Regions from separate parts of the Homo sapiens genome. Here region 1 is linked to region 2. Evidence: fine-mapped expression QTL. Tissue or cell type: whole blood. Region 2 holds a variant in brackets; the other region holds the start of a gene. All regions are shown on one strand. Distances are from middle to middle.

What was found. PIP is the estimated chance that this variant, and not a neighbour inherited with it, causes the effect.
Region 1: RAB2A starts here. The variant in region 2 is fine-mapped to the expression of RAB2A in whole blood (TOPMed, PIP above 0.99).

Annotation. Positions count from the first base shown.
Region 1 is chr8:60,513,077-60,521,141 of GRCh38, forward strand. RAB2A (RAB2A, member RAS oncogene family) reads left to right here and starts at 3,911. Exons shown (of 8, transcript NM_002865.3): 1 at 3,911-4,177. The coding sequence starts at 4,132. LOC124901949 (a long non-coding RNA gene) reads left to right here. Exons shown (of 3, transcript XR_007060922.1): 3 at 616-3,722. RefSeq lists enhancers at 3,059-3,919, 5,155-5,344 and a silencer at 3,495-4,364.
Region 2 is chr8:60,608,860-60,616,924 of GRCh38, forward strand. All of the region lies in intron 6 of RAB2A (RAB2A, member RAS oncogene family), which reads left to right. Among named protein-coding and RNA genes, the nearest start is that of CHD7, 66 kb to the right of the region's middle. The variant G/A (reference allele first, on the strand shown) is at 4,362.

The sequences.
Region 1 (8,065 bases), 96 kb before region 2:
TATCCCTCTTCCCAAAGCCTGAGAGTAATTAAAACCAAAGAAAATATAAACATGAAAGTTTAGTTGGGAGAAGCAAATGCAAACTTCTAATATAGTATTGTACTCAAAAATGTCATGGAGAACTTGATTAGGAGACACTGAAGAATGTAGTGCTACAATCTTGAAATTTCACAGTTATGACCTTCAGACCATATATGATGTAAGGCTGAGAGACAGAGTTACCACAACACATCCTAAGAGACTGAAAATAGCCGAAAATCAAACTGAATGGAAAATTCCAGGAAGTATACTATATTTAATGGAAGAGAGGTTTATTTCTGTTATTTTGTCTGGGGGACTTTTCTTGAAAAATATGTTTGGATTTTTATGGGCTAAAGAAAATGTTTTAAATGAGGTTTATGTGATTTTTATTTATACCCTGTATTTTTTCGAAGATTTAAGAGATTATAGGTTTATAGAAAATATAACAAAATATTATGAATCATACATAGGAAAAAAGGTAGAGACATAAAATAGAGCCAGGAACAAACTTAATTTTAAACCATGAATTTATATAGTGATTAGGCCTTTAGTTCCTCAAGTTAATTTCTTTTTTTTCTTTTTAATTTTCTGTAGAGACAGGATCTCACCATGTAACCCATGCTGATCTTCTTGAACTCCAAGGCTCAAGGGATCCTCCAGACTTTGCCTCCCAAAGTGTTGGAATTACATGCATGAGCCACCGCACTCAGCCCCTCAAGTAATTTCCAAAAATTATGCAGTGCAAAGAGTTTTATGTATTAGGTATACATTTTTCATAATTTACACAGTATTTTCACATACATTATCTCATTTGATCCTAAATGGACTTTGTTAAGCAGTTATTATCCACATATTCCAAATAAGGAAACTGAAGCCCAGAGAAGAACTTGAAAATCCTGTTCTTCAAGGTGGGAGAATTGCTTGAGGCCAGTAGTTCAAGACCAGCCTGAGTAACAGAGGGAGTCTCCATCTCTCCAAATAATAATAATAATAATAAATGATATAGGCGTGGTGGCATGTGCCTGTGATCCCAGCTACTCAGGAGGCTGAGGCAGGACAATCACCTGAGCCCAGGAAGTCAAGACAGCAGTAAGCCATGACTGGGTCACTGTACTCCAGCCTAGATGACAGAGCAAGACCTCCTCTCAATCAATCAATCAATCAATCAGAACAATATGCATTTGACATCTATGGCCCCTGCATTTTCACGAGAGGATTACTACCTTCTTTACAGATGGCTTTAGATTTGGAGGCTGGCTAAGCATAAAATTAAAAGACGTCATGCTTGGAATAGCCCTTTTAAGAAACACTTAACTCCTTTACTTAATAGACAAGTGCACTGAACCACTCATAATTTTTTAAATTATTTTTATTTTAATAATTATTTTATTTATTAAGACACAAGGTCTCAATCTATAGCCCAAGCTGGAGTGCAGTCGCACCATCCTAGCTCACTGCTGCCTCAAACTGCTTGGCTCAAGCTATCCTCCCTCTTCAGCCTCCCAAGTAGCTGGGACCGCAGGCACAAGCCATCGCAACCTGTGCTCTGAAGCTTTAAGAGGCCAAACGATTCCTCACATTCATCCGATCAGTTACAGGTAGAGCCAAGACCAGAAGCCAGGTATCCTATTTTCCTTATAACACATTGCCTCTATAGCTTTATATCCATTTCTATGATTTTTGTTACATACCCAGTTCTGACCATTTCCTGTCACAATTTCCTTTGTCTACTAAGTAAAGTTCTAAATGCATGGTGACATAACATACAAGGCCCTACATAACCTGGCACAAGAGACCTCTCCAGGTACTCTCCTCCTCTAACAGTGTAGGAATACTCCTGACTCCTAGGATGCCAGGCATTTGTATAACATCCTAATAGAGTTGTGCTGGTGAAGGAAGGCCACATCCCTCTATCTTGTGAGAGTGAAGACTTGAGTTTCTCCATCACCAAGGAAGACTTGGGTGAAGGCACTCAAGTGGGAGGGACAAAATGACATCTGAAAACTGGAGGCCTTGGGCAGGGACCTCCCCTTCCTCAAACTAAAGGTGAATGAACCAAATTTTGCGATTCCAGGTAGCTTTTCATGTCAAATTTTCATGTCAAATTCTTCCGTGCCATCTCTGACCCTTTAGTAAAATCCCCTCCAAATATTCCAGAAAAACCTTGTGAGTTCATATTTGGCAAGGCCATCCAAAGCATGTTAGCAACCCAGCATGATGGTGTCAGTACTAATTACATAATGAGAGGCCCCAAAGAGAAGAGTATTAGGCAACAGGAACGAGGGCCACTAAATCCCAATCGCTTTTCCCCAGCAATGATTCTCCTTCAATATGAGGTTATGGGTTATGAGGATATGAGTTAGTCAATTAGCTTCCTTATGCAACTTCAAATTCCCTGAACAGATCCAGGAATTTTGCACATTCTGTTCCTTGTCCATAAACTTTGGTTCCCCTCCCCAAACTGTTGTTCTTTCGACAAACTCTATACATAATTCATATTCCTGGCTCAGAAATCATAATCTCTAAGTAACCTTTCCTGACACCCTATTCTCCACCTCCTCTTCCATAACCTGTGGTCTTTTTGAACAGAGTGGTGACATTTTGGGCTGGATGACTGAAAAAGCAAAGTAGAAAAACAGAACATAGAACATACAGGGCCTCCAGTTGCTGTGCCTGGCGGTACATGAAACATAGTATTCAATAACTATTCTTTGAATGCACAGTCATTTTGTTTTTTCCTTTAACAGTATTTCCTAATAGGTAACTCATGAACACTGCAAAAAATGTCAAACTGCACAAAAAAATTCAGGGAAAAGTACATTTTCCCCCCAATCCCATTCCCTCCTTTCTCTTAATACCAGTTAGCTTTCCTTTCAGATTGATTATGCATATATGGGTATGTAAATGTTTTCCCACTATTTGTTACACATAAAAATTATATACAATTCATATATTACATATGGTGCATGTTATATACACACACATAAACAGATCATCTCGGTTTTGCTTAACCTAAGTCAGGCTTTTTTTTTTTTTTTTTTTTTAGAGCAGCCCTCAGAACCAGGACAGGTTCAGAGACTTTATTTATTTTTTATTTACTATTATTATTTTGAGACGGAGTCCCGCTCTGTCGCCCAGTCTGGAGTGCCGTGGTTCAATCTCGGCTCACTACAACCTCCACCTCCCAGGTTCAAGTGATTCTCCTGCCTTAGACTCCGAGTAGCTGGGATTACAGGCGAGCACCACCACGCCCGGCTAATGTATTTTTAGTAGAGACGCGGTTTCGCCATGTTGGCCAGGCTGGTCTCGAACTCCTGACCTCAGGTGAGAGCAACGTAGTACTCCACTGTGCGTGCATACCATGATTTACTTTGCAGTCCCAGATTTACGGTTTCCAATTTATAAATACTGCCATTTTCACCTTCAAGCCCCGATGCCAAACACAGAAATACCAGGCCACCCCCACCCCCTCGCCGTGTGCCTCCCACATTTTCACACACATTTTCAGGAGCCCAGGGCGCAGCCTCACACCGAACGCCGCCTCTGCCGTCCCCTCACTTGCCCCGTGCCCCCACCGCAGGGCTGAAGGCGACGGAACCGAGCCTTTGTACCCCCACCAGCCCCGTTCCCTGGCGTCTCCCGGCCGCCGGGCTCGCCCGCTCAAACGTGGCGGAACAACCGGAGCCGGGCCCCGCCCTGCTGGAAGACAGGGCGGACCGGGCAAGGCAGGCGCGGGGCGGGGCGGGGCGGGGCTCCGGCTGGCGGGGCGCGGCCAGCGTGCAGGGCTGGGCCAGCGTGCGGGGCTCCTCCCCTTTCCTCCGGCGGCGCCGGCGGCCGCAGAACTTCCGGGTCGGCGCGGAGGCGGGGCGGAGGCGCCGCGGCGGCTGTTATTGTTCGGCTGGGCTCGGTCGGGCGCTGTCTCCCTCGGCTCTGCGGGTGTCAGTTCGTCCGGCTTCCTCACAGCCCCTCACTCCCGGCGGCTGACAGCAGCAGCGGCGGCGGCGGGCGGCGCCTGGCGTTTCGAGGCTGAGCGGCACCGGGGTTGGGGCGCGGAGGAGGAGCAGCAGCGGGAGGAGGAGCCGTGTGCCCTGGCACTGAGCGGCCGCGGCCATGGCGTACGCCTATCTCTTCAAGTACATCATAATCGGCGACACAGGTGAGGGCCCCGGGCGCGGCCGGGCGGGTGTCGGCGGCCTCCGGACCCGGGCTGAGGGGCAAACGGCGTCTGGCGGTGGCGGGGACGCGGACTCCACCCGGCGCCTCCCTCCTGGCCGCGCCGCTCCATTTCCGCAGTGCTGGAGCTGGTGACGTGGGCACTGCGAGCGGCCGCGGCCTGGCCAGGCCCGGTCTGCGGCCCCCGACCCGGCCAGTCTTGCAGCTGAGGGCCGTGGCAGCCGTTTGCGACGCCCGATTCAGGAAGTGTGTGACAGGAGGGGAGGCCTAGCGCAGGGCCGCCGGGGCCCGACTCACATGACTGCACCCCACCCCCAGGGCCCCTTGCGTTAGGTCTCTTCGCGGCCCCAGGAAAAAGAAGGAGGGAAACCTAGGGGAGCAGAAGGTGTTGGGGCCCGGGTCTTGGTTCCTGACCAGTCCAACCTTCCTCCACCAGCACGCATCTATCAAGGCCTGGGCAAGGCGCTTTTTGGCGTGGGACAGGCAGCCGAGAAAGAGAAAAGGAAACCTTTAAAATATGTATTTTATATATATACATATATATAAAATATGCTTTTTTAACACCTTCAACTCTCACGTCAGAATAAGTCACATCTCATTACTTGACGGCTGGAGAATCCCTTTCGGGGTTAGGAAAGCATGAACGAGTTCTGTGGACTTTTGCCACGTGTGAACTGGGGTTATATAGTAATGTAAAGTCGTTCAGTGCTCTGGGTGTGTACTTAGGTATGTGTATGTTGAGGACGCTGATGTTTTAGATATGTCAAGTCCGGTGTCACAACTGCTAATTTTCAGGTGAGCTCATGTCCATGAGCTGAAAGAAATTCAGTTATTCTCACTTAAAATGACGTCCTAGTATATTTCACAGAAAAGTAAACAGACTCTTCGTAGATATTTTTAATACCTGTGATTTGGCATTACTTTGAATCTAATAATAAACATAAAGATTGTTTAGATGTTGCAACTATTAATATACCAGAGTCTGATTTCAGTGGTTACTCTTGCACAACTTTGGACCCTTTGCACAACTTCGGTCATGTAAGCAGCAGTTTGTAGTTGAACTAATGATGTGGCAGGTTCTATAAGTAACTAAAGAAGCATGTTGGCCGGACGCGGTGGCTCACACCTGTAATCCCAGCACTTTCGGAGGCCGAGGTGGGGGATCACCTGAGATCAGGAGTTCGAGACCTGCTTGGCCAACGTGGTGAAACCCCGTCTCTACTAAAAGTACAAAAGTTAGCCGGGCGTCGTGGCAGGCGCCTGTAATCCCAGCCACTTGGGAGGCTGAGGCGGGAGGATCACTTGAGCCCGGAAGGTGGAGTTTGCAAAAAAAAAAAAAAAAAAAAAAAAAAAGCATATTTATTGCTGCCTGAAAGAAAAAATTTCTGCTAGATACATGAGTTTTCAGCAAGGTTTTCTGATGCGTGCGTGCGTGTGTGTGTGTGTGGAAATTGGATTTGTAAACTTTAAAAGAAAAATGCTGTGGTGTATTTGGAAGAAGGAGAATTCTAAAGTCTTCTGGCAAAATTTCATTTAGGCTGTAAAAACAAGATTGGAGAGGAATGCCACATTAACTGTAATATGAGTGGGTTTGAGAAATAGAAGCTTGTGACTGTGGCATTTGGCTATCTCATTAGTGGTGAAAATTCAAATCAGACTTTGCTGGTTGCCTTTTTTCAGTTTTTTATTTGAGGCTGTACTGTGGATAAATAAAGTATTGTGCATGGAGTAGTGGGGCTACAAATCCTAACAAGTTAATGCTCTGTTCTCTTGGAATTTGCTCTTATCCAAAAGCAGTCCCCACGCAATTCAAAGGGAAGACACTTCTTTCTTGTCATTGCTGCTGATACGACCTAGTTCAGGAACAGAATTCTTGACACTGTTATAGTCTGCAGCAGTACTTCTCCCTACTCCAGTTCAGCCAGTGTAGTTTACTGTCAGTTTAGTCATCCTGAAGCATGAATGTCAAAAGGCTACTCCTGTTTGCTCACAATTTTTAGTTTGACCTTCAGTGAACTCTATATTTTAGCCCCTATCTACATTTCTCGCCTTCTTTCCCGCTATTCCCCACCTTGCTTCTGCCATTGAGTCCCAGTGACTGATTTTGGTGTTTTTTTCCTGGGCACTGCTAGTCTCTATTCTTAGAGTGCTTTCCGGCACAATCTCTCCCTGTGGAAGATCCATCAGTCCTTCAAAGTCTTATCTGAGTTTTCCGTAATGCCTTCACAGTCAACATATATTAAGCTCTTATTGTGTGAAGATTTTCACAGTATCCTGGCTGAAAGTGACTACTCCGTTTCTGAATTTATGTTTCTCACTTTGTGTCATTCTTCTGATATTGATCCCAGACTTTTCTGTTGTATAGATACTTGTATAGGCACCTCTATTATGTAGGTACCTATTATATACTTCTTGAAGTCAGAAAAGATGTTTTGTATGGCTCTGTATTTCTTTCAGGAAGAGCGTAGTAGAAGGTAGGCCCTGTATATTTAACTAATAAGAGAGGAGCCAAACAGGCTACTATATTCCTGTTTGTATATATTAATAACTTAACAGAAGTGGTGTCGTTGTTGTTGTTGTTGTTGCCCAGTTCTGCCACCTTCTTGCTTACTAATTTGGGCAAAATCCTTTACCATATTTCTTTAATGCAGAGTGTACCCATAGTTGTAAGATACACTCAGTGTGGCCCTCCCCTAGAAAAGATGACTTTAAAATCAGTAATGTGAGATCCACTTTGATTTTTTAAAAAGTCAGGGTCAAAAACATGCATCTTAGAATGAAGGAAATCACCTAATTTTTCTGTTTCCCTGTTTCCGTAACCTATAACCTTCTCTCAGTATGTGGGATAAAATGAGGATAAATGTGAAAGTACTTTGATTTCTCAAAGGAAAGGAACAATGCACATTTTTCCTTTTCAGAATTCCCTCTTTAATAGAAGAGGTTTTAAAAACTTTTACATGATCATGATGATACTATTGAGCTGTTTTCTTACTGTAAGACTAAATGCAGTTAAAATGTAGCTTTAAATTTTTTCCTTGTTCCTGTCTTGTTTCTGAATCATTTAGTAAAATGTGTCATTTAAATCTAGATGTAAAGTGGAAAGTGGTTTTTAATAAGCAGTTAATTATCAAGCATGGAGAGAAAAAATACGAATCTATAGTAATTTTTCTTCTGAAATTCTAGCATCTGCCAACCATTTTAACCTTATCACTAACCCTCCCTGCTGCTCAACGCTCAGCAAGGTAAACAAAGGCACAGGTTTGGTTGTGTTCTTATTTCTGCTAATATCTGAAGCACTCCTTCTTGTTCTTCCCTATCAAAAAAAGTTATGTCAAAAATTTTTGTCACCTGGCCAACTCCTTTTTATCCATTCTTTTGAGAGTTTAACAAATCCTACCACTCCCTGTTGCATTTTATGCTGGTCCCCTCCTCTCTTCCCTCATTCTGTTTCCCTTCTCTTCAGTCCCAGTCCCACTTACATTTTATTTTTTATTTTTCACTCTTATGTATATACCCACCACTTCCATTTTATTTTATTTTACTTATATTATTTATCTATCTATTGAGACATGATCTCTGTTGCCCAGGCAGGAGTGCAGTGGCACTATCACGGCTCACTCACTACAGCTTCAGTCTCCTGGGCCTAAGCAATCCTCCCACCTAAGTCTTCCAAGTAGCTGGGAACACAGGCACATGCCACCATGCCTGGCTAATTTTTAAATTTTTGTAGAGATGGGCTCTCACTGTGTTGCTCAGGCTGGTCTCAAACTCCTGGGCTTAAGCCATCCTCCCACTTCAGCCTCCCAAAGTGCCAGATTACAAGCACAAGCCACAGCTCTCAGCCCCACTTGCATTTTAAATTATCTTTTTA
Region 2 (8,065 bases):
ACCCCTTGACATTGATTTATTCAGTTAATACGTATCACTTTTCACCTGTTATTGTTTCTGCCTATTAAATATCTCTCCAAATTGTCTTCTGTCATAATTGTATCCTAATTGGACTTCCTGTCTTCATTTTTCAGTCCCTTACACTGTGACCTCTGGGATCTTTCTAAAAATGAAGGTTGAATGTCTCTCTCCAGTTTTATTAACCATGCAGTGGTTCCCCACAGCTTCAGCATCAAACTCCTTAGCTTGGCATGCAGGATGCTTTGATTGCCAACCCCTCACACCATATGCTCTCCATAGTAAACTAGGAGTCGATCAGCTTTACAGTGTTCTCTCCCCTTCTCCACAAAAAAGTATTCTCTGCACTTGAAATGCCCTTCCTTCCGACTTGATCCTCCAAGGGTATGGTTAAGTCTGATCCCTCCTCTGGAATGTGTTCCATGACACCAGCATGTCTTCCTTCTGCCACCAGCCACCACACACAACATCTGAATTGATAGACTTCTTCTTCTCCTTATTCCTGTGTTGTCCTGGGCATGAATTCACCTTAGTATGATATCATTGCACTTGTTTGTCATGTCGGCCCACCAAAAGGATTGAGTTCTTTAAAGACACAGACTCTTTTCATTTCTGCAACCCCCACATGGTAGATAACAAAAGTTTGGATGAGTAAGTATGTATTTGCTTCAACCATGTTCTTCTTCCTTCAGTCTTTCATTCTGGTTATGCTTTGGTCCCATTTGTTACATGTAGGTAGAATTCTGTCCTAAACCTTATCTTTGCCCAAGCATTTTAAAACATGAGATTTTAGAAAATCCAGGTGAGGCTGGGTATGGTAGCTCACACCTATACTCCCAACACTTAGGGAGGCCAAGGTGGGCAGATCACTTGAGGCCAGGAGTTTGAGACCAGCCTGGCCCGCATGGCAAAACCTCATCTCTACAAAAAAATAAAAAATTAGCCAGGCATGGTGGGACACGCCTGCTGTACTCCCAGCTATGAGGTAGGAGGATCACTTGAGCTCAGGAGGGCAAGGCTTCAGTGAGCTGAGATCATGCCACTGCACTCCAGCCGGGGCAACAAAGGGAGACCCTGTGTCTCAAAAAAAAAAAAAAAAAAAAAAAATCCAGACAAGCAAATTGGCCTCTCATCAGGTGCTTCTTCCTTCAGTAGCTGCCTGGAATCTTTGTGGTTTGAAAAGGCCTTTTTAGGTGGAGAGATGTTCATGTCATAATGGCAGGCTAGGTAAACCCCCACCCTTCCCAGAAGCCTTATGCTTATGCTGCTGAAGTATTTATGCTACTGAAGTACTAGATACCACCAAGACTATAGCTGAAAATACAACCAGCTAACCCTAAGACAGATTGCAGTAACCCACCAAGCCACCTAAACTGACAGGATAGATGAATTTCTATGTCCAGAGAGAACACATGACTTACTAAGACATTAGTAACTAGGAAGACTACCAGTTTCAAGTCCCCTTGCTAATACCTGCATTCTGTCTCAGTACTTGAAAGTCTGTAGACTTTATTTGCATTGAGGGACCATCTTGTCTTGGGCTTTGTTGTAACTGGTGGAATGAGTATTTTTATGTAGCTGTAATGAGGTTGTAAACTGAAGGCTTTGTTTCCCCCTTAAATCTATTCTGAGTGTTAAGCCCATGGATGCATACCACAAGACTTCAGTGGAAATCTGACCTGGCCTTCCTCAGCAGTTTTCCAGTATCCCTTGAGGATAGCTTAGTTTAATAAATATTTACCACTCTCCTCCACATTTTGGTAGACTTGGCTGACTAGCATCAGCTTCTTCACCTCTAATTTGGCCATCATCCCCGGAACTTCATAGATGATCCAAACTCTGACTTTGAAAGTTGCATCCATTTTCTGTACTTCTAAACCAGGGTGGCTAAACATTACCCAAGAAAATTATGCTAATAAATGCATGTCATATACTTACACACTCACATTTATCTGTAGCTTATATTCCCATATAAGTGCACAATTATATAGATCGCCATCTACCAAGAGTTTCCCACTTGTACGATGTATTAGAATTCCACGTGTCTAAAAGAAATTTTTCATTCCTTCCTTGAAAACTGATTTTCTTCCTTTTTAATTTATCTCAATTCATGGTATACCCTTTTATCTCATCACTTAAACCAAAAGCGGAGTCATCCATAAACATATCACCATTTTACTCTGTCACTTAAAGTCCTGTTAATTTCTTCACAACAGATATTAGGTTTGAGCTTTGCCATTCATTCTCGTTGCCACCATCTGACCTTTCTTTCTTGGGTCATTGCTCTGGACTCCTCAGTCTCCCTGTGGCCAGTATCGCCCCCTTGTGATTCATTCTCTAAACTCTCCTCTGATTTTGTCCCTCCCCTGCTTCCTACCTTTTCAGGGTTCCTCTGCCTATAGGGCCACATCTCTAACTTTATCTCACGTTCCTGGCCGTCCTCAGCTTCCAACAGAATTGAACTTAAAATCTGCTCCTCTGTCCAGAATGCCCTTCTTCCCCTCAGTTTTCCTAATATATGAGTGGGAGCTTACCTGTCTTTCAGGCCTTCACTTGCAGGGCTTTTCTCTCTCAGAAGTGGTCATGCTACCTTATTCATCTAAGCAACTGAAGGTTTTTCTTCTATGTTCGCATATTGGATGCATATCTATCCTATATACCACATCCTTGAGATGTAAGGTATTCATATTTATCTGAGTGTCCTCAGTGCCTGGTACAAATCAAGCACTCAGGAAATGCTTATTAAATGGAAGAACTAAATTGCTAAGGAATTAAACATTTTTGTGTTACCTCTGACAGAAAGTAGGAACAGGAAATTCTTTTTTTAATTGAAAACATTTTAATATTTACTTTTGAATATAAATAAGCATTCTAAGAATAACTTGGAGTAAAATTTTTCTTTATGAGCTAAGTTTAAATCCACTTGAATTACAAAACGTCAGTCATTGGTTCAGTATACTCAGTACTGAAGAGTAAAATGCTGCAATATTTATGATTTTTAAAACTATTAAGTTTACATAGAAAACCAATTATTAATCTGCATTGCGCAGCTGTTGCTATGTTATGCTGCAGCAACAAACCCTAAAATAAACAACTATTTTTTTTTAAGTTCTGGGATACATGTGCTGAACATACAGGTTTGTTCCATAGGTATACATGTGCCATAGTGGTTTGCTGCACCTATCAACCTGTCATCTAGGTTTTAAGCCCCACATGCATTAGGTATTTGTCCTAATGCTCTCCCTCCCCTTTTCCCCAACCTCCCTACAGGTCCCAGTGTGTGATGTTCCCCTCCCTGTGTCCATGTGTTCTTATTGTTCAACTCCCACTTATGAGTGAGAATATGCAGTGTTTGGTTTTCTAGGAACAGGAAATTCTTAAATGCCATATTCCCCAAACCTTTCTAATCAAATAGTTCTAGTTTCTTCCCCTCTTCAGTTTCCTGCTAAAATTAAGATGTGTTTAGGCTCCCTACTTTCCTTTAATTAGCATTGATACTGGTGATACTAATTTTTGTAAAGGGTAGGAAAGAGACAAAAGATGTAAATAATACAAATTTTATATACTTCCAAAAATAATCCTAGAAATCCAATATAATTTCTAGCTAAAAGGGTTTTAAAGGATGTAGGAAGTATATGCTTTTTATGTTCATTTTTAACTGCAACATAAAACAAATGAAAATTCCTTTGACTTGTATTAAAGATAGCTGATCCTAATAAAGGAAAGATATATGTAGTGAGAAGACTATTAGATTCTAATCCTGCGTCTGCTGTAATTATGTGTGGTCTTGGGCAAGTCGTTTCTCCTTTTGCAGCTCAGTCATATCTACAAAATGAGAAAATTATAGATTGTAGATTTAGCAATGGCCCTTTTCCTTCTAGTGAAACACAGAGAAACTGTATGAGAGAAGTAACACCACAACAGCTCTACTTTGGAACTGGTGATGCTATAGAAAGAGGCGGGGAAGAGGCAGAGGTTCTCCCTCCACAGGGCTGTCCCTACTCCATCTCATTCCAAAAGGTGGCCCCTGCAGAATTGCCTTGAAATACAGTTTAAAAGCCACTATTGGATGATATACGAGTTTTTCTTCACTGACCCGAAATCAGATAGAATCACAGAATTTGAAGAAGTTTCTTAAACTCCCTAATATGAAATTCTAGTCTGCTGTGCTTTTCACAGGACTCTCCTATCTTTGCCCAATATCTAAGTCTTATTAAATATATTTTATTTTGGGGGGCTCATTGTGCACATTATATGTTGCCAATTCACTTTTTTAAGGTTTAGCTCTATTTAATCAAGATATATGAATTGACTATAGAGCATTGATCACCATTTCTCTCCTT[G/A]ACTTTGGAGTGTCTGCAGGGCACATACACATTTAGCACCAGTACTCCCTTCTCCTGTTGTTCCCCATGTGTCTTTGCATCCAGACGTTCATGCCAACAGCTGACACACCTATTGGGTGCTTACTACATGTCAAGCACGGTTTTCAGTGCTTTACATTAACCTTCCTAGCAATCCTATGAAGTGGGCTACATTTATCTTTCCTTTATTAGGATCATTTATCTTTAATACAAGTCAAAGGAATTTTCATTTGTTTTGTATGTTGCAGTTATAATTGAACATTAAAAAAGCACATATTTCCCACGTTATCATCCTCATTTTACAGAGAGGCTAAGCACTGGTTCCAGAGCAACACAGCTGGTAAGAAGTGGTACTGGGGTTTGATCCTGGAGAGCCTGGTTCTAGAGCCCTCAGTAATTCTGTTCATTTTAAAGGTCTAACTTCATCCCACAAATACAGATTTTCTTGAAAGCAAAATAAAGTTAACATTAATTTTCTTATTTGTTTACATACTTAGAATTTCTTTTAAGAAATAGTGAAAACCTTTGTAAATCAGTATAGTGACTGTCCCATAGTAAATACTTAGTATATATTGATTATTATTAACTTAGGCAAATGGATAACTGTAATGTTCATAGCATTGACTTTTAGCAGTTGAGAAGAAAAGCCACATTTTAGCTACCTCATATTTCTCAGTTCTAAGAGAAAACTAAAAGTCGCTTGTTTACAAGATACCCTGCTCTGTAGCATCTGTTCAAGATATTTAAACTGTCCAAAATACTGGTCTTACCTAATTTTTATCATGCCACCAGGTGGCAGCATGTTATGTAAGGAAGTAATTTAAATATTCTATTGAAGATCATTTATTTTCAATATTTTGCCTTAAAAACTGCCCAACCATAATAAAAAATAAAATAGTATCTCATGTTTCCCTTTGCCTGCATTCTCTCCAGTCTATTTTAAAGACCCTGTTAGCACAATATCCGTGAGACCTGCCTTAATCCAGCCCTGCATTCTTCTATCGGTTAGTGCAGAAAGTTTTTTTCTTCCATCTTTATGGAGATTTGAGCCATTGGGCTTAGATTCTGCCAACTAAATGATTTTATTCCTACCTAAATAGTTCCTATTGTTCAGCAACAATAGTCCTCCTCATCTTTGTGTCTTCCATGGTACCTACAGAAGTTCTGAATATGTGGCAACGATTTTTTTCTTAATAGAGACAGGGGTCTTACTACATTGCCCAGGCTGGTCTCAAACTCCTGACCTCAAGCAGTCTTCCTGCCTACGCCTCTTTCAGAGTGCTGGGATTACAGGTGCGAGCCTGGCCAGTGACAATAGTTTTAACAGGTGCCCTTGGGTAAATGTCAGTGATATGTAAGATCCACATTAGCGTGTGTATTTACTGAATGTTTATTTGAATTAGAACATATTTATAGTCTTTTGTGGTTACGGTTGTTTCAACTGTGCAATCGAAGTCCCTGAAATTTTGCCTTAAGTTTAGGTATTATCAGTATCATTCAGATTAACTGCTGCCAAACACTGAAAGATTAGTGTTTGAGGTGGAAAGCAAGAGAATGAATGGCTAAGGAAGAAAAGGAAGGTAAAGGACTGAATGTGGCAGTTAAAGTCTGGGGGAAAGGAAAGGCTAGTGGTAAAATGAGAGAGGCAGGCTTCTTTTACTGCAACAGAGCACCGGCCACATGGGGAAGCAGGAGGACCACCAAATTCAGTTGGCTGCAGAGAAATCTGTTTATACTTCATAATCGTGGATCTGCCTAGACATTGCTTGTTTCATGGTGCAAACAGTGAAATCATTGAAACAAATGAAATCATTTGACATCAGTTTGTTAACAAATATTTTTTCCTATTCTAAAACCTATTAGTTTTGCCTACTGCTTGTCCCTTAATGAAGTCTTAAAAGAGCTTGCCCCTAAAGAGATGTACATAAGCAAAAAGAAACCAGCAATTTCATGTAAGCCCACCTTACCCTGTAGGTATTTCCTTGCTAAGGGTAATTGAGTTTAACAAAGGCGGTTTAAGTACCTATGCTATTTTAGGTATTGTGCTAGAGATTCAAAACTACAATATGTTTAACATCTATAGATAAGGTATTTTTAAGAGAATAGCTTAACCATTCAAATTAAACTAATTCTGTGAAGAACATTAGTACTGCCTTGAGATATTTACCAACCAATACTTAAAATGTATTTTTGTACATTATATATATATGGAATGCAGTGGTCTAAAGATGGATTAGAAACATCTATACCTTAAAAAGTTTATATATGGGATTGATATTTAATGAATAGAGTGAAATGATCAATTTTTTAAAATCCCAGCCAATGTGTTATATACATACATATTTCTCATCTTTTTGGAAATGTTTTGCATCTTAAGTGGAGGAGATTTTATCTGTGACACCCAAGGCTCTTACCTTAGAACTTTTATTTGACCTCTCATAAGCCTTACTAGTATTTGGTTAATGTTCATTATATTTAGGAACTCAGCAATTTCAAAGTCCATGGCCACATATTTTATTGTTTGTGTGTGTGTGCAAAGCCTAGTGTTATTGCAAATAGCCACATACTTTTAAAACAAGTATATTAATGTCTACATTTGTCATGCTGGGTTTCAAACGCAAAGGACTCATTAAAATTAGTCATTAATCACTTAGTAATATATATTAAATATTAATGTTTGTCATGAAGTATGTAAAACAACCCGTTTGTATTGTATCCTCTATAATATGCTCAGGGGGTAGAAAATACTTGATTTTATTGTCTGTAATGTGTAATCAGAGATTGAACGACCAAGTAATGTAGCATTATCCAAAGATTATTTGTTATATTTCAGTTGTAATGGAGTTAATTGCATGCCTTTCAGATAAAAAAATACTGTATGTACATCCTTAATTCATCTGGTACAACTATGTTTAAAAGTGCTTAATAAAGTATTCAGTACTATTTAGGTAATAAAATTAGTAGTGACTTACTTAATTTTATGTAGCATCACTTTCTTAAGCCTGTTTTTAAAGTGATTTATTACCAGACGGGCAAAAAGGCAATTTTTATGCAAATTGACACATTTAATAATAACTTTTGTAGTATAAAAGTGCTTGTTTGTATGAAGTTATAACTCACTTATGGGGCCTTGTAGTTCTATGTAACATTCTAGTGAAATGTGCACATGTGGATGCTCTTGGAAGCACTTCCAGCCCTGTGAATTTATGTATCTGTTGACTTCAATATTAGGTAGCTTGATTTCTAAAGCCATCACAGTAATTGACATGTTATTGGAAATAAAGTTAAGTTTTTCCTTATTTATAGGGATAACCTCAATTTTGAAGAATGTGAATCAATTCATACTTGGCTGAAAGCCAGTTCCCTCTTCAGTTTAGCTCTAGCACATACATGAAAAGCGCACTCGCGTCCTAAGTGCCTTGTGAATCTGCAGTGATTAATTCTTCTCATTATTTTGCTGCAAATTCTCATGACCCTCTGTGATGATTCGATCAGCCACTTAGAGTTTATGCATATTCATATCTCTGTGCTCCTGCCGCAGACGTTCAGATCTCCTTCACTGACTGGTGTGTGCTTGGTGCAGTAATTGAGCTGCAGTAGATTGATTACTCTGGGGAGCTGTAAGGCCTTTAAAGGTGAAAACATATCAGTCCTGTTAATTAGGAAACAAAAGCTCTGATGGCAAG